Regions from separate parts of the Homo sapiens genome. Here all the other regions are linked to region 1. The links come from fine-mapping of genetic effects on gene expression. A gene starts in region 1. Each other region holds a variant in brackets. All regions are shown on one strand. Distances are from middle to middle.

Evidence for each region. PIP is the estimated chance that this variant, and not a neighbour inherited with it, causes the effect. A credible set is the group of variants that fine-mapping cannot tell apart.
Region 2: its variant is the best candidate, but not a certain one, in a credible set for the expression of CLK4 in whole blood (INTERVAL, PIP 0.72).
Region 3: its variant is the best candidate, but not a certain one, in a credible set for the expression of CLK4 in non-classical monocytes (Schmiedel 2018, PIP 0.74).
Region 4: its variant is the best candidate, but not a certain one, in a credible set for the expression of CLK4 in whole blood (INTERVAL, PIP 0.74).
Region 5: its variant is the best candidate, but not a certain one, in a credible set for the expression of CLK4 in whole blood (TOPMed, PIP 0.68).
Region 6: its variant is the best candidate, but not a certain one, in a credible set for the expression of CLK4 in subcutaneous fat (GTEx, PIP 0.54).

What each region holds. Positions count from the first base shown.
Region 1 is chr5:178,625,321-178,629,408 of GRCh38, reverse strand. It overlaps CLK4 (CDC like kinase 4), which reads left to right and starts at 2,359. Exons shown (of 13, transcript NM_020666.3): 1 at 2,359-2,463. RefSeq lists enhancers at 2,391-3,000, 2,733-3,413.
Region 2 is chr5:178,722,848-178,726,935 of GRCh38, reverse strand. ZNF354A (zinc finger protein 354A) reads left to right here. Exons shown (of 5, transcript NM_005649.3): 4 at 1,465-1,560. Among named protein-coding and RNA genes, the nearest start is that of ZNF354A, 5.8 kb to the left of the region's middle. RefSeq lists a silencer at 2,677-2,877 and an enhancer at 3,093-3,593. The variant G/T (reference allele first, on the strand shown) is at 1,682.
Region 3 is chr5:178,583,257-178,587,344 of GRCh38, reverse strand. All of the region lies in intron 1 of COL23A1 (collagen type XXIII alpha 1 chain), which reads left to right. Among named protein-coding and RNA genes, the nearest start is that of COL23A1, 5.1 kb to the left of the region's middle. The variant G/A (reference allele first, on the strand shown) is at 2,526.
Region 4 is chr5:178,758,684-178,762,771 of GRCh38, reverse strand. No RefSeq gene overlaps it. Among named protein-coding and RNA genes, the nearest start is that of ZNF354A, 30 kb to the right of the region's middle. The variant C/T (reference allele first, on the strand shown) is at 1,917.
Region 5 is chr5:178,673,466-178,677,553 of GRCh38, reverse strand. No RefSeq gene overlaps it. Among named protein-coding and RNA genes, the nearest start is that of MSANTD5, 22 kb to the left of the region's middle. The variant C/A (reference allele first, on the strand shown) is at 2,442.
Region 6 is chr5:178,600,086-178,604,173 of GRCh38, reverse strand. CLK4 (CDC like kinase 4) reads left to right here. Exons shown (of 13, transcript NM_020666.3): 12 at 240-330; 13 at 417-1,510. The coding sequence ends at 557. Among named protein-coding and RNA genes, the nearest start is that of COL23A1, 12 kb to the right of the region's middle. The variant A/TTA (reference allele first, on the strand shown) is at 2,511.

The DNA of each region.
Region 1 (4,088 bases):
GTTCTTGTGTAGAGATGAAACCACTGGATTAGGCAGTGTTTCTGGTATTGGTAGTAGATTCTCAGAAATTTAGATAAACCTTTTCATTAAGTCTTGCCAGGTAACTGACTTAATAGGAAGGGTTGAGGCTGCCACGAAAGGGTGGTAAGCTAACTGGTGCAGTGATGCTGGGATGAAATGTCTACCTTTAACTTACTCACTTTGACCTTAAACCAACTGAGCAAAATGGCCCAAAGCAGCTTATGTAAACAACCTACAAATATTTACTGGGTTCTAGGCCTGAGATACCAAAGACAATATAAATCAGGTCCTTGTCTCCAAACTCAGCACAAAGCCACAGAGAGTGACTAGGGGCACCATAGTGCTGCATCACATAGCATAGAGGTGCTAGTCATTCTCAGCTTCCTTCTGATCACTACACACTTTTAAACATTAGACCTTTTGGTGGCATACAAATTAAAACACTAAAGCGAGATGAATGTAATTACAAAGCAGACTCTACTATTGGGTAACAGTGTGTGTGACGTCTATAATATAAAGGCCTCTGTAGGTGGCATTTCAAGTGGCTGCTTTTTAACATAGTGTTGCTTTTTTGAGCAGAATTGTGGGCTGTCCTGACCACACTTTCTTATAACCCCAGGAGGCAGGATCTCTCCTACTCCATGAAACAGGAGAACATTCTTTGGTGCCAGCTTGAATTTACATTCTCATATGCTGCAATTTGAGCCCCACTCTACCTTGTATTATCGCCCAGACCAGTCAGCTCAACATTCTATCTAATAGATTCCCTTGAGACGGGATGTGTAATCAATTGTAGAACCAATACATTTCACTCTTTGGGCAAAATCTGTTAGCATACCAGGTGGCTCCAAATACTCCACTATTTGAGGACTTCACATCTAACTGGAGTAGTCAGGAGCCGGGAAATGGGTGGGAACTCATGTCAGAGACAGCATCTTAAAGAAATGGCCTTTCAAGGATGAGTAAGATTTAAATTTGTAGATGCAAAAATGGTGGCTATTCTAGATGAAAATAATATCATTTGTTTCATTCTGTAGCATAAAGAGTTTACCCTTCCAGTTTTCCAAGTTTCTTTTCAACTTCGCTTCTTGGAGTGCAATCTCCATGAAAATTCAACTTACTTTTTGAAATGCTGTACAATCTCCGAGATTTATCTAAATTTACCCTACTTACCCAAACCAGATGGCACAAGTTTCTATCATGTTAGATCACTAAAGGTATTTCCGTTCCCTCCTTTCACCTAACAGGATAACAGGTCTCCCACATGCTACTGGGCTAATACCCGCAAGAGTTCAACCCTACCCTCCCAAATTTGATTTCTAGCTTTCCCTTTTATCCAGCGAATCCCCGTCAGAATACAGAAGCCAACCCCCACCCCGCCCGCCGTCCCCCCCCACGATCTTCAGTCTCACCTAAACCCTTTCCCTCACTTACGCCCTTCCTTGCTTTGACACCCTATTCTTGGTTCTCCTCCTCTGCTGATCATTCCTTCTCAGGCCCCTTTCCCTCTGGCCCTTGAGTGTTCCCCACAGGGCTCCGACTTTGACCCTAATATTTCTCATGTTACATACTTACACGGGGGAACTGCCTGAGGGTCCTCAGAACTGCAGAATACCTTATTTGAGGTAAGCAAGCCCCATAACGGACTATCACTAGCTCAGAGACATTTTTCAGCCTTGAATAAAATCAGCCCGCAGGGACAAAAAAAAATGGGGAAAACTTCGTTAGGGAAACTTCCAGCGACCTTAACTGCTCAGGAGGTAGGGATCCTAACAGGAAAACCTTGTCAGGAGTCTCCATTGAAACCTCCGGGTTTTTGTTTTGTTCTGAATAGGAGCACGTGCCTTGAAAAGATTAGCACCCCTTGAGCTTGTTTTCTGAGACAGCCTCTTTGTCCGAATCCACCTTAGACTGGAAGCGCCAAGTGGGCAGGACAAGCACCCAGTCCAGGGAACAGCCCAGGGACCAGCCAAGGCCCGCCCTAGGCGGTTTTGGGGCCGTTGTCGGGTGCCGGCTGCGGGAGTTGAGGTCCCGGGGGAGGGGGCAGACACGCGGTACACACTGAGGGCGGGACACGGGCGTTCCTTCCCGGTTCCACCCGAGCCCGTAGAGAACGTAAACACCCTCCCGGCCTAGAGGCCCCGGGACCGGGTGGGCGGGGGGGGGGGGGTGGAAATGCTTGGGCCGCGCAGCCGCAGTGTGGAGGCTCGAGCCCCGCTCTTACGTCACGTGGAGCCCCGCCCTTAGGTGGAGCGGCGGGAGCGCGCAAGGTTCTGTCACGCAGGCGCGTTCGCGCGGCGTAGGTGGTGCTAGAGGCGACTCGGGGGATTCTAGGGCGACGGCGCTGCCGCCATTTTGTGGGGTGTTTGTCGCAGCGGCCGAGGAGGGAAGACGGCAGTTTGGCGACATTTCTCGGCCGAAGGGCCATTTGCTTTTGCGGAGGTAGGGTTGCAGATGGTGTGTGCTGGGACAGGCGGCTGTCGGTCTTTAGGTCTCCGAGCCAGGTGTCGGAGAAACGACCGCGTTAGGGGCCTGGGCTTCTGGAGCTGAGTTGGGAGTTCTGCGAGGCGCTGCTCGGCTGGTGCACGCCGGCAGCACCGAAAGTTGCTCGGGCGTCGCGGTTCTGCCGCTGACCCTTCTCTGAGGGCCCTGGCCGCTCGCGTCGCGGCTCCGGAGGCCGTGGGCTCGCGGTCCCCTGCTGCCTGGCGAGCGCGGCTGTTGGTTAACCCTGTCGGGACCTCTTCCAGCCGGCGGGCGCTAGGACCTGTCGGGAGACCCTTCGAGAGCCGTCTCTGGCATTCGTGTTGTCGGAGATCAAGTCTTCCCCTGGATTCCTGGCCTGGGCCGTTTGTAGCGTTTCGGGGGTTTTCCAGAGTCAAGCATTTGCCCCTGTCTTGAGTGCGCCAAAGGCACTGGCCGGGTGCCCAGGAGCCGGGAGGTGGGGACCGGGCGTCCGTGCAAATCCAGGTGGTTGAGGGCAGTAGCTGCTTGTGAGAGGTGGAAATTTGCGGAGGCTAGTCCTCTGTGCTATGCTGAACACAACATTGTTGCAGCGAACCTGCGTTTCTGGTGGTTTTGCATCTTATTATCCCTGGTTGCCTAAATAGTCCAGATAGGCTTATCCGATCCTTAGGAAACCGCCCCGCAAACTGAACTCGCCAGCCACTTTGTCTTGCCTCATAGCTGTCCTGTGCGATTGTGCTTTTTACACACCCCTACAGGCTTGTAACCCATTAAATGCAGTCCTCTTGGAGCCATCCAATCCTAAACTTATAACCTGTTTCGATGTTTTTAAGCCATGTACGTAGCGTAAAGTTGTCAAGAACTACAGGATCTTAAGGGCAGTGGCGATGGATCTACATATGAGATCCATTGTGTCATTATTTTTTGAAAGATACCTACTCTAGCATGTGGGATGCTTTATTAGAGGCAGTGTCATGATTCTAGATAGCTTTTCTTTTTTATGTATGCGAAGGAACCTTACCACGTAGAACGTGGGTCGGGTGATCTTTGTGCCTCCAGATAAAATATTTTTGAACATTGCAGGGTGAGTGGGGGAGGTCAGAGGCTGGGACTAACAGCTGAATTACATTTGAAGTAGTGAACTTGAGAAGAATTTTGGACTCTCACAACGGAGCTCGTTCTTATTTTAATGTTTGCATATTAACTGATAATTTGAGAGTTCTGTTTTGCTGGAGGTTAGCTGGTTGTAAGCAGACTTACAGTAGAAGAGGAAAAAACAAAACTGAAGAAGATACATAAGTCTTGAAAAAAACTTCATAGTAATGGAGGGTCATAATAATAACGCTCGGTCATCAGATGTGATTTTGCTTGCTATGATTTAAAAATGCTTAACCAAGCTGAGTTCCTGATGTGGTTAAAATACAACTTTGGTATTTGACGGAACGCTTCAGAAGAACTGCACTTGAAATACACATTTTCTTTTTTTTTTTTTTTTTTTTTTTGAGACAGGGTCTCACTGTCGCCCATACTGGTATGCAATGGCGTGATCATGGCTCACTGCAGCCTTGACTTCCTTGGGCTCCAGTGATTGTCCCAGTAGGTGG
Region 2 (4,088 bases), 98 kb before region 1:
TGAATAAAAGCGGTTGGTCACTGAAAAATTTGAGCTGAGTGTGTGAGGATTGTACAAATCAGATCTTTATAAATAAACATTAAAAACCTATTCCCCCTTATAGGCATGAAATTGCCCTGTGTCTGGGAATGGAAGAGGTGGTATTGATAATCATTCCTCTCTCTCTATGTAATCACACACTCCAAGTTTGTCCATGATTCAGGCATCGTTTCCCAACGATTCTGTAGTTTGCTTGTCTCCCAACAGGGAGCTTCATTCAGCCTCTAGGCCTACCACCTGCCTTTCCCACTTGTCTTTTCCAGGGATTAGCAAACTTTTACTATAAAAAGCCATGTAGGCTGGGCATGGTGGCTCACACCTGTAATCCCAGCACTTTGGGAGGCCAAGGCGGGCAGATCATGAGGTCAAGAGATAGAGACCATTCTGGCTAACGTGGTGAAAGCCTGTCTCTACTAAAAAACACAAAAAAAATTAGCTGGGTGTGATGCCGGGCGCCTGTAGTCCCCGCTACTTTGAAGGCTGAGGCAGGAGAATGGCGAGGAGCTTGCAGTGAGCCAAGTTCCCGCCACTGCACTCCAGCCTGGGCGACAAAGCGAGACTCTGTCTCAAAAAAAAAAAAGCCACGTAGTAAAGACTTTAGGCTTTGTGGGCTGCGTAATGGTCTCCGTAACATATTTCTCTTTTTTTTTCCCACCATTCTTTGCACAGGGCCATACATAAACAGGCAGTGGTCTGAATTTGGCCCATGACCCGTAGTTTGCTGATCACTGCCATCCTTAAAAGGGAGTCACATAGGCCGGGCGCGGTGGCTCACACCTGTAATCCCAGCACTTTGGGAGGCCGAGGCGGGCAGATCACAAGGTCAGAAGATCAAGACCATCCTGGCCAACATGGTGAAACCCTGTCTCTACTGAAAATACAAAACTTAGGCGTGGTGGCATGTTCCTGTAGTCCCCGCTACTTGGGAGACTGAGGCAGGAAAATCACTTGAACCCGGGAGACGGAGGTTGCAGTGAGCCAAGATTGCGCCACTGCACTCCAGCCTGGCAATAGAGCGAGACTCCTCCTCAGAAAAAAAAAGCGGAGTCAGATAGTGTTTTCTCGTTTTAGACAAGCTACCTGGTACATAATCCTTTTCATAGATAACCTACTTAGAAATTCTAATCAGTCTGTATATCTTAACATTTCCTCTTCTATAGAAAGCTAGTGGTATCCTATTACCAATACTGCATGTTGATCATATTTTCCTAACCTATAATTAATTGTCCCAGAGTCATGTCCTACAAGTCACTTGTCTTTTCCTCACCCTACCGCCTTACCCCCTTACCTCCCAGGGGCACAACTGAAGCCCTACACAGAAGCTCTTTGTACCATCCTGTGAGTTCTGTATTTAAATTTGGGATAACTGTATCAATACAAAACCAAGTCTGATTTGTTTGGTTGTGGTTTTTTGTTTATGTGCAGGGCTCCCATTTACCAAACCAAAAGTGATCTCCCTGTTGCAGCAAGGAGAAGATCCCTGGGAGGTGGAGAAAGACGGTTCTGGCGTCTCCTCTCTAGGTAAGTGGGTGGCCCGAGGTGCGGAATGGCCGCAGACAATGGTCTGGTTAATGAGAGGAGGTAGGAACGTTGGTTGGGAAACTCCCTTGAGAATTCTCAGGCCTCAAGAAGTGATGGGGAA[G/T]CGGAAGCCCAGGCTCTTAGGCAGGATTCACTTCCCCATGAATCTCTCAGAATCTCTTTCTTACTCTTTCCTGTTGTTTTAGAATAGGGCTGTATTTTCATGTATTCATTCAGCAAACATAGTCTATTTAAGGAATTTCAAATAATCACTCTGGCTGAAGCTCAGGGTGTATTTGGGAAAGGAGGAGGTGAGGAAGGAAATAGCCTAGAAAGCTAGGGAAGGGCCGCGTGGTAAGTGCTTGGGCACGGTTCTAAGAGGTGGAAACTGTCCCATGGAGCACTGGAAATAATGGAAGGATTTGGGCAGGAATCATATGGTCCTTGGTATCTTAGAAAAGTTGGTGTGAATCAGAAACAGCTGAGTCTCCATCCGTGTAAGAACAGCTAAGGGACCTGTGAGCATCACCACCCTGAAAACAAGAGTCCAGGGACGTGGACAGAGCTCCCAAAAAGTTACAGAGCATTGTTAGGACGCCACCATTTATGTCTAATGAAAATTATGTGTATGTGTAATGTGCACATAAGCAGAGAGAAAGGTTAGGAGGACACACCTTAGCTGATGACATTAGTTACACTTGGAATGGGATTGAGAATGGGTCCATGGAAGGGGGCATTACTTACATGTAGTATTTTAATGTTTCACAAAGAGAATATATTTGTGACGTTCTTATGTGATTTGAATTCACAAGAATGGTCACTTTGGAAGCATCGTGTTTGAAAGTGAGGCAGAACGCTGGGCACGGTGGCTCACGCCTGTCATCCTAGCACTTTCAGAGGCCGAGGCGGGCGGATCACCTGAGGTCAGGAGTTTGAGACCAGCCTGGGCAACATGGCAAAACCCTGCCTCTACTAAAAATACAAAAATTAGCCAAGCGTGGTGGGGCAGGCCTGTAATCCCAGCTACTCCGGAGGCTGAGACAGGAGAAACACTTGAACCCGGGAGGCGGAGGTTGCAGTGAGCCGAGATTGCGCCACTTCACTCCAGCCTTGGCGACAGAGTGAGACTCTGTCTTAAAAAAAAAAAAAAAGGCGGGAAGCCTTGCAGAGCGATTGCAGTCATGGAGGGAGGCAGGAGGTGGAAGGGCCTGGATGAAGGCACTTGCCGTGAGTTCGTGAGGGAGGAGGCGGCGCCCACGTGATCAGGGTACAGGAGCAGTTGGGTGTGGGATGGATTTCACTTGAGATGTGAGTGAAGTCGTCAGGTGGGGAACCCTGGTGGGCAGGTGTGTAAGTGACAGGGCCGAGACTCAAGGGAGGTCAGGGAGCCCATTAGCATGATGGGCATTAGAAGCTTGGAGCTGGCCAGGTGAGGGGGCCAAGTGGAGGCCCGAATTTCAGGAAACAGCATTTGCGAGGTGCTTAAGCAGGAGGAATCTGACAGAGCCCGAGAAGTAATCAGAGTAGAGAAACGGGGAGGGGCCATCGTGGCAGTGGGGGACTGAGAGTGGTTGAACTGGGGGGGCTCTGGCTCTGGGGGATCAAGGTTGAACCCTCGCCCACAGCTTTGTATAGCATTGGGCAGAAAGGGACACAGGTCTCCTGCTTCTGGAGTGCACGATCTAGTGGGGGACAAGGTGAACACACTCATTGCACACAAGGCACAGAAGGACACATTCCAGTGAGGACCACGTGGGAAAGACACTCGGTGCTGTGAGAGTGCAGAGCAGGCAGGTGGCGTCAGCAAAGGCTTCCCTGTGGAAGGGCCTGGGATCAAAGGACTGAAGAATTGCTCAGGCCTAAAGAAAGGTGTTCATGAAGGTCCAGAGAAGCAAAGCCAGCGAGGAGAAGGTGGAGCACCCGAGAGAGAGCCACGGGCCCTGTCACAGGGTTTGGTTGGTGCTTGAGAGCCAGGCACAGGTTCTGAGGAGCCGTAAGTAGCCCAGGGCAGGCCTAGGCTGCTTTCTGCAGCCGCCAGCCCATGTGGAGAACCTGACGGCCACAGTGCAGGGCTTGTCAGGTCCAGAGGGCTCAGTGATGGCCCCTTATGCCATGGGCCCAGCAAGGAGCTGCAGGGCAGGCAGCCTCGGTCCCCACAGCCCCTGTGCTGGGGAGAGCTTTCTCCTCCCTGAAGAAAGGTGAGATTTTTTTATATGGGAACCACACTTGTTTATCTTTTTAACTCTCCTTTGGGAGAAATACACTACGTGGTCTGGCCCTGGCTACCTCTTCACTCTCAGCTCCTTCCACTCTGCCCTTCATTCGAGGCCTCTGATCACCCTTGGCCGCCCTGCAGTGTGTCATGGGGGGCGCCAAGCAGGCCCCCACTCAGGGCCTCTGCCCTGCTTTTTCTGTCTGGGACTGTTCTTCGTGGCGGTCATGCGTCCATGTGGCTCGCTCACTTCCTTGTGCTGCACAGGCTTCGGCTCACACAGGCACAGATCATCTGACACGCAGCCCTGCAGCCCCCA
Region 3 (4,088 bases), 42 kb after region 1:
GAAGCTACAAGAAAGGAATATTCATGTCAACTCATGATCATTAAAGACCCTTCCCATGGCACACAAAGGAAGAGATAAACAAGATTTCTGAGTAAGAGCCATGAACGATCGTATCTTCACTATGATGTGAAAATATTCATGCAAAAAAATCTAATATTTTCCTCTTAAAGTGCTTTAAATAGGTTGCCTAAGTAATCAATCCCCCCATCTTATACCTATAGTTACAATGTTATAAAAGCTTAAAACTTTAGAATACATGGCTTTCATAATACAGTAAAAAATGTAATGCAAGGATTAAAGAAATATTTAGTTGTATTCAGAGGAGACCATGCCAGCTTACAATGGATTTATTGTTGGCTGTTGGCCTTCCATTGTCCAGACCAATCAGTTTGAAAACAAGAAAAGCCCAGAGACTCGAGTAAAGTTTACGCATTTTCCTTTTCTCTTATCAACTCTGTATATTGGTTAAATACTGTCAACCCAGAGTCAAATGGAGATTTTTCAGCCTCTTTGGTGGTTTGTCTACTTGTCAGGGCTGCTCTCTGCTGTCAGTTTTAATTAAGATGCCTATTTTTGAATTCCATGGCACAACTGGAGATGCAGTGTAAATCATAGCTACATTTGTTTCCTTGACATTTCCTGGCTCCCAAAACAACAAAAAAAAGTTTCCTTTCAATGACTTCTTGGCATGTTCACTTTCTCTCTCCACTCTTTTCTTGTCCTTTTTTTTTTTTCCTTGCAACAGTTTGGGAGAGCTTTATAATAATAGTAGCATGTTTAGAATGAGCCAAGGATTGGGGCGTTCCTTTCACAGACATATTTTGTCATTTTGGATTGGACTTTTCCACATCGGCTTTGAAAATTTGAGGCATGGCCCCTGAGGTTGGGGAATCTGTAAGCTGAATGAATTTATACCAGAGGCAGAGCAGAGCAGACCATGCCTGAGGTTTCCTATCAGCAGAAGAGAGTTTGAGGCCTGGTCCCACCATTTACCAGCTCTGTCATCCAACCTCTTCCACTGCCTCTCCTCTGATAGTGTGGTCACAGCTCCCATGTATGCAAATATGATAACAGACAGGAAAAGTACAGGATGGTAAATATGCTTTTGATGGGAAGTAACAGAATATCTGAGTGTCCTTTCTTAGCACACACTACAGGAGAAGCTTGGAAGACGGTCAGCGCATCCTGGGTCTGTCAGCGACTTGGCCACACCTGAGTACCACTCAGTCTCTGCCGTTCTCTTGTCCTTTCCTCATGGTCACAAGGTGGCTGCTGCAGCTGTGAACCTATGTCTTCACCCAAGAGTAGCCTGGGTAGAAGGGAAGGGGGCAGGGAAGAGAGCGGTCTTCTTGAGAGGTTGTCTCTTTAATTTCAATTCAGGGGAAAACTTTCCCACCTTTCGGCAGACTTACAGCCACTAGCCAGAGCTAGGTCACAGGGTCGCCATCCCCTTCACTGGCAAGGGTAATGCGATCGCCATAGGAGGCTTTGGCCAATCTTGACTCATCCCCTGAGGCTGGGCGTGTTGCCGCTGGAACAGAATCGAGGCTTTGGTAGGAAGGAAGACTGGGCATGGCTACTGGGGAGCAACCAACAGGGTCAGCCAGGGCTGTGGAGTGTTACCCCAGCGCCATCCAGGGCTGTAGGGCATTACCCCAGCGCCATCCAGGGCTGTGGAGTGTTACCCCAGCGCCATCCAGGGCTGTGGAGTGTTACCCCAGCGCCATCCAGGGCTGTGGAGTGTTACCCCAGCGCCATCCAGGGCTGTGGAGTGTTACCCCCAGCATCAACCAGGGCTGTGGAGTGTTACTCCAGCGTCATCCAGGGACGTGGAGTGTTACTCCAGCGTCATCCAGGGCTGTGGAGTGTTACCCCCAGCATCAACCAGGGACGTGGAGTGTTACCCCAGTGTCAACCAGGGCTGTGGAGTGTTACCCACACATCAGTCAGGGCCGCGGAGTGTTACCCTAGAGTCAGCTGGGGCCATAGAGTGTTACCTGAGCGTCAGCCGGGGCCACAAGTGTTACCCCAGGGTCAGCCGTGGAGTGTTACCCCAGTGTCTGCTGGGGCCATGGAATGTTTCTGTTGTCACCCCAGAGGAGGGTGGGGCAGAGCGGGGGTTCAGTCATCCACTGGCCCGCCTAAGTTCTCATAACTGGGCCTTCCTTCTGCTTTGGTGTTTCCCAAGGACCACATTTTGGGAACATTCTTCAACCACAAAATTTCTGCCTCCCCTGGGGCTCTGCTGTCCAGCTGTGCTGCCGGCCACAGCTGAAGGGAAGGTTGATGGGTTTGGGATTGTCTCTGGCACAGTCCCGTTGGTTGCAGTCTTTGGCCTTTAACCCTTGAGCAGATGCTGTTCTGCCCCCGAAGTGAGTGACTAAGGGTGGCACTCTAGGACATTGCTTGCCAGCTTTCCCATATCATAGCACATGCAAAGAATGGTAGCACTTCCCTCACTGCAGGAAGGGAAGAGGACACTAGGCTGGAGGTGACCAGCCACTCCCCAGCCCCGAAGGACCAAG[G/A]TAGTCAGTCTACCAGAGACCACATACAGTGCACCTGCACCCACTCGGTGTGTCTGGGAAGCTCTGTTACCCCCTACTATCCTGCCTTTCCCCCAGCTCCTTGGCTTTCTTAGCAGCCATATCTGACTGTGGCCTCCAAATCCCCTTCCAGAGCAGGTGCAGTTACAGTCATGGTCTCCAGAGCAGGCTGTCCCTCCTTCCCTCACCGAGCAGCAACCCATTAGCTTCAACCTTTCTAGATGCCTTTGGATCCTTTTACCCTCAAATAGCAATGTGACATGACTCCAAGATGGTGCAGCTTAATTTCAAAGAATTCAGGCTGGGGCGTGGTGGTTCACACCTATAATCTCAGTGCTTTGGGGGACCAAGGTGGGTGCATAACTTGAGCCCAGGAGTTCAAGACCAGTTTGGATGATATAGCAAGACCTCGTCTCTATTTAAAAAAAAGAAAAAAATTTATATGTATTTATTTCTAGGTGTGTGTGTGTGTGTGTGTGTGTGTGTGTGTGTGGCCAGGTGCAGTGGCTCACACCTGTAATCCCAGCACTTTGGGAGGCCGAAGTGGGTGGATCACCTGAGGTCAGGAGTTCGAGACCAGCCTGGACAACATGGCGAAACCCTGTCTCTACTAAAAACACCAAATTTAGCCAGGCATGGTGACATGTGCCTGTAATCCCAGCTACTTGGGAGGCACGAGAATCACTTGAATCCGGCAGGCGGAGGTTGCAGTGGGCCAAGATCATGGCACTGTACTCTAGCCTGGGTGAGTACATCTCAAAAAAAATAATAATCAGCTGGGCATGGTGGCGCAAGCCTGTAGACCAGCTCCTCGAGACACTGAGGTGTGAGGATTGCTCGAGCCCAGGTGTTTAAGGTTGCAGTGAGCCATGATTGCGCCACTGCACTCCAGCCTGGGTGACAGACTGAGGCTGTTTCAACAACAAATAAAAATTGGGGAGAAAGCAGGGGGTTATTAATTAGCTTGAGTAACGGAGAAGTCCAGGCTAGTGTCTGTGTAGGCCCGGCTCAAGGTGCCTGGATTTTGTTTCTTCCTCTTGGCTCCATATTTCTCAAGGATGCCCTCACTCTCCCCATAAAGTGCCAGGGAAGCTTCCAGCAACTCCAGATTCACATCCTTAGTGTTAGTTTCTGTTTTCCAACAGTCCCAGCAGAAATTCCCTAATTCCCTCTGATGGACCAGTGTGGATTGCCTGCATTTATCAGTACAGACAGCCTGCATCTAACAATACGGATTACCCGTCCTGGTCACTGAGACCCGCAGGGCAGCCTCTCGATGGGCGAGGCTCAGCTGCGTCTGTGTGTGTGTGTTCATGTGTGTGCACGATCAACCCCACTGGAGCTCTAGGGACCAAGAAGTGAAAGCTGATCCCAAAGGACAATTTGGAGTGGTGTTATTGGAAGAAAAGGGAGAGGACATGAGGCCGGCAAAACCAGTAGGTGACCATCCAAGGAATAGGGTGAGAAGCTTGGGCTCTAAGCTGGAGCTGTGTTCTAGAGAAATTCCACCTCAGTGGCATGAAACTCAATGAAAGGATTTTTGAT
Region 4 (4,088 bases), 130 kb before region 1:
TGCTTTTTTTCCTTCTCCTTGAAGTGAATTCTATGGGCCTGAACCCAGTGCTCCACTCCCTTTGTTGTGAGGTGAGTTCCCAGGCAGTGTTCTAGCAGGCTTCTCATCTGTTTCAGTCGCAGAGACCTTGGGACAGTTAGTCTCTGCCAAACCTCCTACAGGCCAGGGCTTGCTGACCACAGGCACGTGCTGCGGTCCGTGATGGCGGGCATGCTCGCACTGCGTCTGGAGGTTGGGCACTGCCTCTTGGCTTCTGCTGTTGGGAGCTCACATCAATGGTGGCCACACCCCCGATCCATCATACCTGGCCTACAAAGGAGAAAGCCACAGACCTTCTAAGGATGCAGGTGTTCCCCCCATGAATGTATTTCTCAACACCTTAGTAAAGAAGGCATTTTCTGGGGTCTCCTGGGGGATGTAGTTGGTGGGTAGGCGTGCAGGTTGCCGTGGTAAAAATCCTTTCAACATTTCGTCTCCCTAGGCCTTCAGATTCCCTCCTCCAACCATGCCAGGGCAGCTCTGGCATCTCTGCCCACTCATCTTAGGCCACCATGGAGTCCTAGTTCCAGCCACCAACCAAATAAGCTTTGAGAGCCACCTCCAGTTAAGCAAACTAACACGTGATATCCAAAATCTTAGTGTACCTAGGTCAGGGAGTTCAGTCTACTGTAGGTCATGTTCTTCTGCCTGCCTTGGTCTGACACGCTCACACACTCCCTAGGTTTCTGCCAACATAGATTGGCAACATCTTGCAGTTCTCTTGGTGTAAAAGCAATCTCATTCTAGGCCATAGTGGGTACTAAAAATCTAAGATCCTAGTTGTGAGTCTGGTGCCAACTGGTGGTAGTTGTGGTGGGTCTGAAGGAGAATAGGCATCTCCTCATGTGAGATTGTCATACAGTTTTCAAGAAAAGGGCAGCTAGTCTCCTTAGACACAACAGAGCAAGCTCCTTCGTTTGGCAAAAGAGGCTCAGAGTGACTTGTGGATTCAAGATTCTCAGTTTCATCTGAGTCCCACCAGATGTCCCCATTCTAAGCTTCAGCATCCTCTTTTTCAATTTTATCTATTTTATTTTTTTTTGAGACAGAGTCGCCCAGGTTGGAGGGCAGTGGTACGATCTTGTCTCACTGCAACCTCCGCCTCTGAGGTTCAAGCAGTTCTCAGAGACAGGGTTTCACCATGTTGTCCAGGCTGGTTTTGAACTCCTGACCTCAGGTGATCCACCCAGCTCAGCCTCCCACTGTGCTGGGATTACAGGCGTGAGCCATGGCGCCCAGTGGGTCTGGATTCTTTTTAAGTCTGATAAGAAACATTTACAATCTATTTTCTCCGAAGCCTACTACCTGGAGGCTTCACCTGCGTAATAAAAACCTTGGTCTCCACAACCCCTGAACCCAGACCCTCTGTTCTGTTGATTTCAGGTCTTTAGATAATGATTTAACTCTTTCAACCAACTGCCGATCGGGAAATCTTTGAATTCATCTATGACCCGGAAACCCCCCAACAACCCGCTTTGAGATGTCCCACCTTTCCGGACTGAACCAATGTACATTTTACATATATTGATTGATGTCTCATGTCTCCCTAAAATGTGTAAAACCAAACTGTAGCCTGAACACTTTGGGCACAGGTTCTCAGGACTTCCTGGGGCTGTGTCACGGGTCATGGTCCTCACATTTGGCTAAGGGTAAATCTCCAAATATCAGAATTTGACTCTCTTCATCGACAATTTCCAGCACCAAACAGGAACCTGGTTTTCCCTGAGCAGCTTTCCTGTGTTGCTCTCACTCTACTCTAAGTGAGCTCACACTTACCTGGGTCACCATAGTTCTTTTTTGTTTTGTTTTGTTACGAGATGGAGTCCTGCTCTGTCGCCCAGGCTGGAGTGCAGTGGTGCAATCTTGGCTCACTACAA[C/T]CTCTGCCTCCCAGGTTCAAGCAATTCTTATGCCTAAGCCTCCCAAGTAGGTGTGATTATGGGCACACCTCACCACACCTGGATAATTTTTGTATTTTTAGTAGAGATGAGGTTTCGCTATGTTGGCCAGGCTGGTCTCAAACTCCTGACTTCAGGTGATCCGCCCACCTCAGCCTCCCAGAGTGCTGGGATTACAGGCGTGAGCCACTGTGCCCAGCCCAATTGTTGATGTTTTTGAGATAGGGTCTCTCTCTGTTGCCCAGGCTGGAGTGTGGTGGTGCAGTCTCTACTCACAGCCTTGATCTCTGGGCTCAGGTGATCCTCCCACCTCAGCCTCCCGAGTAGCTGGAATTACAGGCATGCACCACCACACCTGGCTAATTTTTGTATTTTTAGTAGAGACAGGGTTTTGCCATGTTGCCCAGGCTGGTCTCAAACTTCTGAGCTCAAATGACCCACCCGTCTCAGTGAGTCAATCCTTAGAATCCAAAGTTCTGGGATTACAGGTGTGAGTCACCATGCCCAGCCTGTCCACTGTAGTTCTAATCCATACCAGAAATGCGGAGGGGACGTCAGTGGATCACACCTTGAGAAACTGCTGTAAACAGTGTGAAATCATCAATAGAATTTACTTTTAAGGGCAAGGATTACCTATTATTAACCTTTTCGTATATCCTATTTGAGGGCCTGGAACATGATAGTCACCCAATATATGTGTGACTATCTGAGCTCAAGCAAGATTATTGTTTTCAAGCCTACAATTTTTAAGTAGAGAAGTATCAGAGGCGGCCGGGCACGGTGGCTCATGCCTGTAATCCCAGCACTTTGGGAGGCCAAGGCGGGTGGATCACTTGAGGTCAGGCATTCGAGACCAGCCTGGCCAACAGAGTGAAACCCTATCTCTACTAAAATTACAAAAATTAGCCAGGCGTGGTGGCGGACACCTGTAATCCCAGCTACTTGGGAGGCTGAGGCAGAAGAATCCCTTGAACCCGGGAGGCGGAGGTTGCAGTGAGCTGAGATCGTGCCACTACACTCCAGCCTGGGCGACAAGGTGAGACTCCGTCTCAAAAAAAAAAAAAAAAAAAAAGTATCAGAGACATTCAAACCAGAGCAACTCCATCTTGAACAGGGTTTGGGTAAAATAAGGCTGAGACCTACTGGGCCTCATTCCCAGGAGGTTTGGCATTCTTAGTCACAGGGTGAGATAGGAGGTCAGAACAAGATACAGGTCACGAAGACCTTGCTGATGCATCATCCATTCTGTTGAGGGCCTGAGTAGTGGGAAAAAAAAAAAACCAGCCAAAACCCACCAAAACCAAGAAGGCAATGAAAGTGACCTCTGGTTGTCTTCATTGCTCATTATATACTAATTATAATACACTAGCATGCTAAAAGACCCTCCCACCAGCGCCATGACCGTTTGTAAATGCCATGGCAACATTCGGAAATTACCATATGCCGTCTAAAAAGGGGAGGAAATTTCAGTTCCAGAAACTGCCTATCCCTTTCCCAGATAACTCATGAATAATCCACCCCTTGTTTAGCATACAATCAAGAAGTAACTATAAGTGTATTCAACTGAACAGCCCATGCCACTGCCCTGCCTATGTAATAGCCAGAGTAGCCATTCTTTTATGCCTTGCCTTTCCTTTTTTTTTTTTTTTTTTTTTTTTTGAGATGGAGTTTTGCTCTGTTGCCCACGCTGGAGTGCAGTGGCGCAATCTTGGCTCATTGCAACCTCTGCCTCCGGGGGTCAAGTGATTCTCATACCTCAGCCTCCTGAGTACCTGGAATTACAGGCGTGCCACCACGCCCTGCCAGTTTTTTTATTTTTAGTAGAGATGGGGTTTCGCCATGTTGTCCAGACTGGTCTCAAACCCCTGACCTCAAGTGATCCGCCCGCCATGGCCTCCCAAAGTGCTGGGATTACAGACGTGAGCCACCACACCCAGCCTATTACTTTCTTAACAAACTTGCTTTCACTTTACTCTATGGACTCACCCCAAATTATTTCTTGCACAAGGTCCAAGAACCCTCTGTTGGGGTCTGGGTCAGGACCCCTTTCTGGTAATGGAAGTAACATGATTGTTTTGGGTTTAGAAAGCAAATACTAGCCAGGATGTTTAAAAATAGAAAATACTTCATTACTTCTCTAAAACAGATGAAAAT
Region 5 (4,088 bases), 48 kb before region 1:
TTGCAATCTTGTCTGCCTATTAAGCTAGGTTACAGTTTGTCCACAAGGACTCAAATATAGAGATATGGAGTCCTTCTCAGGCCATATTTAGTTTGCTTTAACAGGAGCCTTTCAAAGAAGAAAAAATAAAAAAATTAAGTACAGATAGCAAATAAGCACATTAAAATATGTTGAATATCATTGGGCATTTGGGAAATGCAAATTGAAACCACAATGAGATATTACTACACACTTATCACAATAAACTAAAATTAAAAAACAAAACACCAAATGCTGGCGAGGATGTGGAAAAGTTGGATCTCTAGTACACACCCGTTGGGAAAGTAAAATGGTGCAGCCAGGCCGGGTGCGGTGGCTCACGCCTGTAACCCCAGCACTTTGGGAGGCTGAGGCGGGTGGATCATGAGGTCAGAAGATCAAGACCATCCTGGCCAACATGGTGAGCCCCGTCTCTACTAGAAATACAAAAATTAGCTGGGTGTGGTGGCACGTGCCTGTAATCCCAGCTACTCGGGAGGCTGAGGCAGGAGAATCACTTGAACCAGGGAGTTGGAGCTTGCAGTGAGCCGAGATCGCGCCACTGCACTCCAGCCTGGTGACAGAGCGAGGCTCCGTCTCAAAAAAAAAAAAAAAAAAGGTGCAGCCACTCTAGAAAAATAGTTTGGCAGTTCCTTATAAAACGAAACATGTATTTCCTATACAACCCAGCAATCACACTGTTGGGCGTTTCTTTGTGAGAGATGACAACTTGTGTTCACATAAAACTTGTACACAAATGTTGATGGCAGCTTTGTTTGTTTAAAAAAAATGAAATAACTTGAAGTCCTTCAATGTGTGTGTGAATGGTTAAACAAACTCTGGCACAACCATAGAGGAGAATACTTCTTAGCGATAAAATGGAATGAACTATTGATGTAATCACCAACCTGGGTGAATCTCAAGGCATTGTACTTACTGAAAAGAGTCAAGCTGAAAAGGTTACAAAGTGTACGAGTCTATTTATATAACATTCTCAAAATGAGGAGCTGTAGAGACGGAGAACAGATGAGTGGTTGCCACAGGACAGGGACTGAGGGAGAGAGAAAAACTGGATAAGATGTCATATAGTTAACAGTATTGTACCAACATCAATTTCCCAAATTGGTTTTGCACTACAGTAATATAAAAATGTCACCATTGAGGGAAGCCGGATGAAGGACACAGAGACATCTATTTATTATTGCAAATTCTTCTGCATCTACAATTACTTTAAAAAAATAAATATTTTTAAATCTCTCCCTGCAAAGGAAAATCCAAGTTGAATGGCTTCACTTGCAAATTCTGCCAAACGTCTGAAGAAAAAATATCAATCCCTTTGCAAACCTGTCCAGAAAACAAAGAACAGAACATGTGTCAACTTGTTCTATGAGACCAGTACTACCTAGTACAAAGCCAGACAAAGACATCACAAGAAAACTATGCTAAAGATTAATATCCCTCATGAATCTACAAAAATTCTCAACAAAATACTATCAACCGGAACCTACCAACATATAAAGAGGGTGATTCACCGTGACCAACTGAAATTTATCCCTTGTATACAAGGTGGGCTTAACCCTCAAACATCAATTAATGTAATGTATCATATTAATGGAATAAAGAAAATAAACCCATGATCATCTTAATAAAAACAGGAAAATAATGGACAAAATCCAACAGCCATTTATAATTAAAAACTCTAAACAAATCAAGAATAGAAGAGAACTTATTGGCCAGGCGCGGTGGCTCACGCCTGTAATCCCAGCACTTTGGGAGGCCGAGGCAGGCGGATCACGAGGTCAGGAGATCGAGTCCATCCTGGCCAACACGGTGAAACCCCGTCGCTACTAAAAATACAAAAAATTAGCCTGTAGTCCCAGCTACTTGGGAGGCTGAGGCAGGAGAATCGCTTGAACCCAGGAGGCAGAGCTTGCAGTGAGCCGAGATCTCGCCACTGCACTCCAGCCTGGGCGACAGAGCGAGACTCCGTCTCAAAAAAATAAAATAAAATAAAATAAATAAAAAAAGAAGAGAACTTCTTTAACTTAAAAGGGGACATATACCAAAAAACCAGCAGCTGATATCATACTGAATGATGAAAGACAATTCCTTCCTCGTGAGGAAAAGTATCTGTTCTTACCACTTTTATGCAACATTGTACTAAAACTTCTAGCCAGTGAATCAAGTGAGAAAAAAAATATTTAAAAAGAAAAGGAAGAAGTAAAACTACCTTTATTTACAGACAACATGATCATGTATATAGAAATCCTAAGGAATCCACCCGAAAACATTAGAACTATAAATGAGTTTAGCAAGTGTTTTGAGTTGAAGTGTGTCCCTACCCCGCACCCCGCCCCAAATGCCCTGCCACCCCAGTACCTCAGAATGTGAACTTACTTGGAAATCATGTCATTAATTAAGAC[C/A]GGATCATACTGGAGTAGGGCGGGCCCTTAATTCAGTATGGCTCCTTATAAGAGGAGAAGAGATCTCAGCTCGCTGCAACCTCCACTTCCCGGGTTCGAGTGATTCTCCTGCCTCAGCCTCCCAAGTATCTGGGATTACAGGCGCCCACCACGCCTGGCTAATTTTTTGTATTGTTAGTAGAGACAGTTTCACCATGTTGGCCAGGCTGGTCTCGAACTCCTGGCCTCAGGCAATCCTCCCGCCTTGCACCCCAAAGTGCTGGGATTACAGGTGTGAGCCAAGGTGCCCAGCCTTAACAGATTTCAAAAGATTGAAATCCTACAGAATATGCCTCCGACTAGACATTATTCAATTAAAATAAAAAACAAAGGGTTATCTAGGAAAACCCCAAATATTTGAAAATTAAAGAATATACTTCAAAATATTCCATGAGTCAAAGAAGAAATCACACAAAATTAGAAGCATTTTGTAGAATGAAGCTAAGACAGAGCTTGGAGGGGAATTTATAGCCATAAATGCTTTGGTTAGAAAAGAATCTTTGAAATTCCTTTCATTCTTCCCCTTCTTGTATGTCCATTTTTTACATGTTTTCTCATTGTCCCACAGTTCTTAGATAGGCTCTGTCTTTTCCATTCCTTCTTCCTCTTTGCATTCCTCCAGGTGCACTGATTCTGTTCTCAGTCATGTCTAATCTTTTGGTAAGCCATCAAAGGCATTCTCCATTTCAATTATAGTGAGTTTTTCTTTTTATTTCCAGCATTTCCTTTTGATTTTTTCTTAAAGTTTCCATCTCTCTGCTTATATTACATATGTGTTGGGAAAAGCTGAGTGTTGGGAGAAGCTGAGGCAGGGCTTGCATGTCTGACATAATGTAAAAGAGTCTTGGAACATGTCCGGGGGCCAGGGTCTAAAACCTCTTGTGGCCTTTGGAACACCCAGTTCTGTGCTAAAGGGTGGAAGGCTGCCCTGTCACACCGTAGTCTAAGCCCAGGGCATAAAACCCCTCATGGCTTGGATACAGTCCAGGTCTCGTGGCTCTAGAATGTGTCTAGACTTGCTGGCTCCTTGCTCTTTGCTCTCCCAGGATCGATTGTATCTTGAATTAAAAGAACCTGCTCTCCATGATCACAAGTAGCAGAGCAAATGCTAAACCATCACAGCTGTAAATCATGTAAATCATGTGCTCGATGCAACGCGCCCTTTTGACCTCCACATTCTCACCACCTGTTTCTTTGTTGGATTACCAATAAGTAGCGTGGGGTCCCAGCGCTCAGGGCCTTCGCAGCCTCCATACACTAGTGATGGCCCTGTGGTCCCACTTCTCTCTCTCATAGACTGTCTTTTTGTCAATCCTTTGACTCCACCAGGCTTCGTCGCCCCCACGACCTGGTGTTGGGTCTGATCACCCCAACACATATGTGTTCTCACATCTTGTCTACTTTTTCCACTAGAGCTGTTGGCATATTATAGGTTTGTTTTTTGTTTTTTTGAGATGGCGTCTGTCTCTGTTGCCCAGGCTGGAGTGCAGTGGCATGATCTCGGCTCATTGTAACCTCTGCCTCCTGGGTTCAAGCGATTCTCCTGCCTCAGCCTCCAGAGTCACTGGGATTACAGGTGCCCACCGCCACGCCTGGCTAACTTTTTGT
Region 6 (4,088 bases), 25 kb after region 1:
TGACATTGTTCCATATGTGATAGGAACAACTTAGTTGAGAGACTAAAACCTCACAGGGTGGAGGATATGAGGTGTCCGATATATAATTGTTGCTGAGGTTTTTAAAAATTGTATGCATCTATATTATATAAGTCTATACACTTAGAGAGAGCTGCTTTCCATGTCTCCCCTCATGGGTGCAGGGTAAAGATACGACTCTTGTTATTTTACTAATCCAGACTTTTTTTTTTTTTCTGTAGAAAACGCAAGTATTTTCACCATAACCAGCTAGATTGGGATGAACACAGTTCTGCTGGTAGATATGTTAGGAGACGCTGCAAACCGTTGAAGGTAAAAGAAAAAAGATTAAAGGTTAAATAAACCACGTGTTTGCACTATTAATAATTTTTTTTAAAACAAAAACATTTCTCCCCCAGGAATTTATGCTTTGTCATGATGAAGAACATGAGAAACTGTTTGACCTGGTTCGAAGAATGTTAGAATATGATCCAACTCAAAGAATTACCTTGGATGAAGCATTGCAGCATCCTTTCTTTGACTTATTAAAAAAGAAATGAAATGGGAATCAGTGGTCTTACTATATACTTCTCTAGAAGAGATTACTTAAGACTGTGTCAGTCAACTAAACATTCTAATATTTTTGTAAACATTAAATTATTTTGTACAGTTAAGTGTAAATATTGTATGTTTTGTATCAATAGCATAATTAACTTGTTAAGCAAGTATGGTCTTGATAATGCATTAGAAAAATTAAAATTAATTTTTCTTTTTGAAATTACCATTTTTAAATACCTTTGAAATATCCTTTGTGTCCAGTGATAAATGTGATTGATCTTGCCTTTTGTACATGGAGGTCACCTCTGAAGTGATTTTTTTTGAGTAAAAGGAAATCTTGACTACTTTATATTCTTAAAGGAATATTCTTTATATACTTCAAATTTAGAACTTAACTTTAAAAGTTTTTCTTCTGTAATTGTTGAACGGGTGATTATTATTAACTCTAGATAAGCAGGTACTAGAAACCAAAACTCAGAAAATGTTTACTGTTAGAATTCTATTAAATTTTAAGTGTTGTATTCTTTTTCATTGGGTGATGTCAGGGTGATAACCAGACATTCATGGAAAGGCATGCAGTTTGTCCATTGTGACAGTTTGTTTAATAAAACCACATACACACTTTATTTAAGATTAAAATCTAACTGGAAAGTCAGCTTGGAAAATGGACATTTCCAAGTATGTTTGGTGAGTCACAGATATAAAAATAGAAATTCTGATGAGAGGTTTCAGTTTTTAATACCAAGTCCTTAGGAGTCTTAACATTGGCCAGCATCTGTTTATCAAATGACATAAATACGTAAACCTATAAGAATTAAGTTTATTAATTAGGCAATTTATGTCTGTGATAATTCTTACGGGAGAAAGAGGATTTGATTGGAAAGCAGTTTGGGAAGAAAGTGCTGCTGAAATTTCCAGAATTTAATTGATTGGTTACATAAACTTTTTGACTTCAGCGTTTGTTGTTGTTGTTCTTTTACTGTCCTTGTTTTCACATAAAAACTATATGGAGCCAGGCACAGTGGCTCACGCCTGTAATCCCAGCATTTTGGGAGACCGAGGCAGGCGGATCACCTGAGGCCAGGAGTTTGAGACCAGCCTTGCCAACATGGTGAAACCCTGTCTCTACTAAAGATACCAAAAAAGTGCTGGGTGTGGTGGCGGGCGCCTGTAATCCCAGCTACTCTGGAGGCTGAGGCATGAGAATTGCTTGAATCCAGGAGGCGGAGTTTGCAGTGAGCTGAGATTGTGCCACTGCACTCCAGCCTGGGCGACAGAGCGAGACTCCGTCTCAAAAAAAGAAAAAACAAAACAAAACAAAAACCCGGTATGTGGTAAATTACTTAATTGGGCAAAAGAAAAAAATGTCTGTTGCTATGGTTCAGTCAGCCAGGTAGGAATATTTTTTGTTGTAGAATTCCTAAGTGCTTATTTCCAGATACAGGTGAATTTTTGTTAAAAGTATCCCTGTTTCATAAGTGCATTACACAAATATTGGAGTTTTATCTGTTTAGGTTTTGTTTTTTTTTTAGACTGAGTCTTGCTCTGTTGCCCAAGTTGGAGTGCAGTGGCGTGATCTCGGCTCACAGCAACCTTCTTCCTCCTGGGTTCAAGCGATTCTCTTGACTCAGTTTCCCGAGTGGCTGGGATTACAGGCATGTGCCACCAGGTCCTGCTAATTTTTGTATTTTTAGCAGAGGCAGGGTTTCACCATGTTGTCGAGGCTGGTCTCAAACTCCTGACCTCAAGTGATCTTCCTGCCTCGGCCTCCCAAAGTGCTGGGATTAAAGGCATGAGCCACTATGCCTGGCTAATCTGTTTATGTATTTTAAACATAAAATGCATGGGATTTTCTTGTAGGACAAATAATGAAACCAAGCTTGGTTTTCTATGTTACTTAGGGGCAACATTTGTCAATACAGTAAGGCTGTGTTCCTAAAGTAGACTAGGAGTTT[A/TTA]AGAAAGCTGAAACAAAAAGTTTATTGTAGAATGACTGCATACATTATGTTTAGGCCTCTGATATAGTCCAAATACAGTGACTTTATTTCAGAATAGTTGAACTGTATGTGATAATTTTTTTAAAGAAGCATTTGATGTTTAAAAACAAGGTTTTTCCTGAGTTTACCAGTGTAGCCCTACAGATTAAGGTGTTTGCTATCCTTTATTTTCCCCTTCATTTTATTTTTCCACTGCCATTGTACTACCCAAGCCTCCTGTCCTTTCCCCCAATAAGTGCTTCAAGTTCCCAAATTAGTGTTTACTTTCTATGAAAAACTCAGAGTAGCTGATCTCAGGATATAGGAGGAAAGAAAAATATTCACATTATTTCTTACTAAGAAGTTATTGATTGCTAACCCCCTGTCTCTTCTGAAAATTTACGTTCTTCACAAAGGGTATTTGCTAATTTCTAGGCCTAATTCATGGAATTTCGGGAATTAAAACGAAACTTTAAAAAATTAGGATAGATGCAATGCTTAGAGGTTAGGGCAGTACCTCTGGGATCATTGAGTGTCTTTTGTCAACCTTCCTTCCCCTCTTCTTTGAGCTTTCAAGTTCCTACTCTTAATTGCCTTTTTTCCTTGTATTTCTGAACTCATTTTGTCAAGTTCCAAGGTTTTTTGTTTTTTTTTTTTTTTTGACAGTGCCTTGAGCTTCAACACTAAAAGGGAAAAAGATTTAGAATGGCCAATGCACATGAATCCTTTGTAATTTAGGTATTTTTCTTAATAATTTGATACCTCATAGAATTACTATTTCTAGAAATTCCATTGAATTGTTTCTAGAAATTCCATTGAAGTCAAGCTTGATTTTTTTAGGAGGCATTTGTAAAGTGCAGCTAAGTAGATTATTTCCAGCTTGCTGCTGCTGCTCATTTTCTTGAGGTTTTTTTTCATCCATGCATTCATGAAAATTTTCAGAGTAGTTGAATTCAATTGACTCCTGCTGACAGCAAGGGGACAAACTACTAACAATTTTATACTTCATAAAATTGAAAACTACTCCTCTGAGTACTCTAGAAGGGCTGTATACTAGAGAAATTGGAAGTGACTTGGCCAAATCTCCCAGTAATTGTGACTTAAATTCAGGTTTGCCAGATTCTACCATTGTGCTTTCCTGTAATAATACATTGAGTCAGAATGATCAGTTTGACTTCTTATTCACAGCTCTACTCTGAAATGACTCCGAGTGAAATGGAATAATAAAACCCAGGTTTTTGGTGGGTGCGGTGGCTCACACCTGTAATCCCAGCACTTTGGGAGGCTGAGGCGGGCGGATCACGAGGTCAGGAGATCAAGACCATCCTGGCTAACACAGTGAAACCTTGTCTACTAAAAATATAAAACATTAGTTGGGCGTGGTGGTATGCGCCTGTAGTCCCAGCTACTCGGGAGGCTGAGGCAGGAGAATCTCTTGAACCCAGGAGGCTGAGGTTGCAGGGAGCCGAGATCGCGCCACTGCCCTGCAGCCTGGGTGACAGAGTGAGACTCCATCTCAAAAACAACAACAACAACAAAAAAACCCCAAAACCCCCAGGT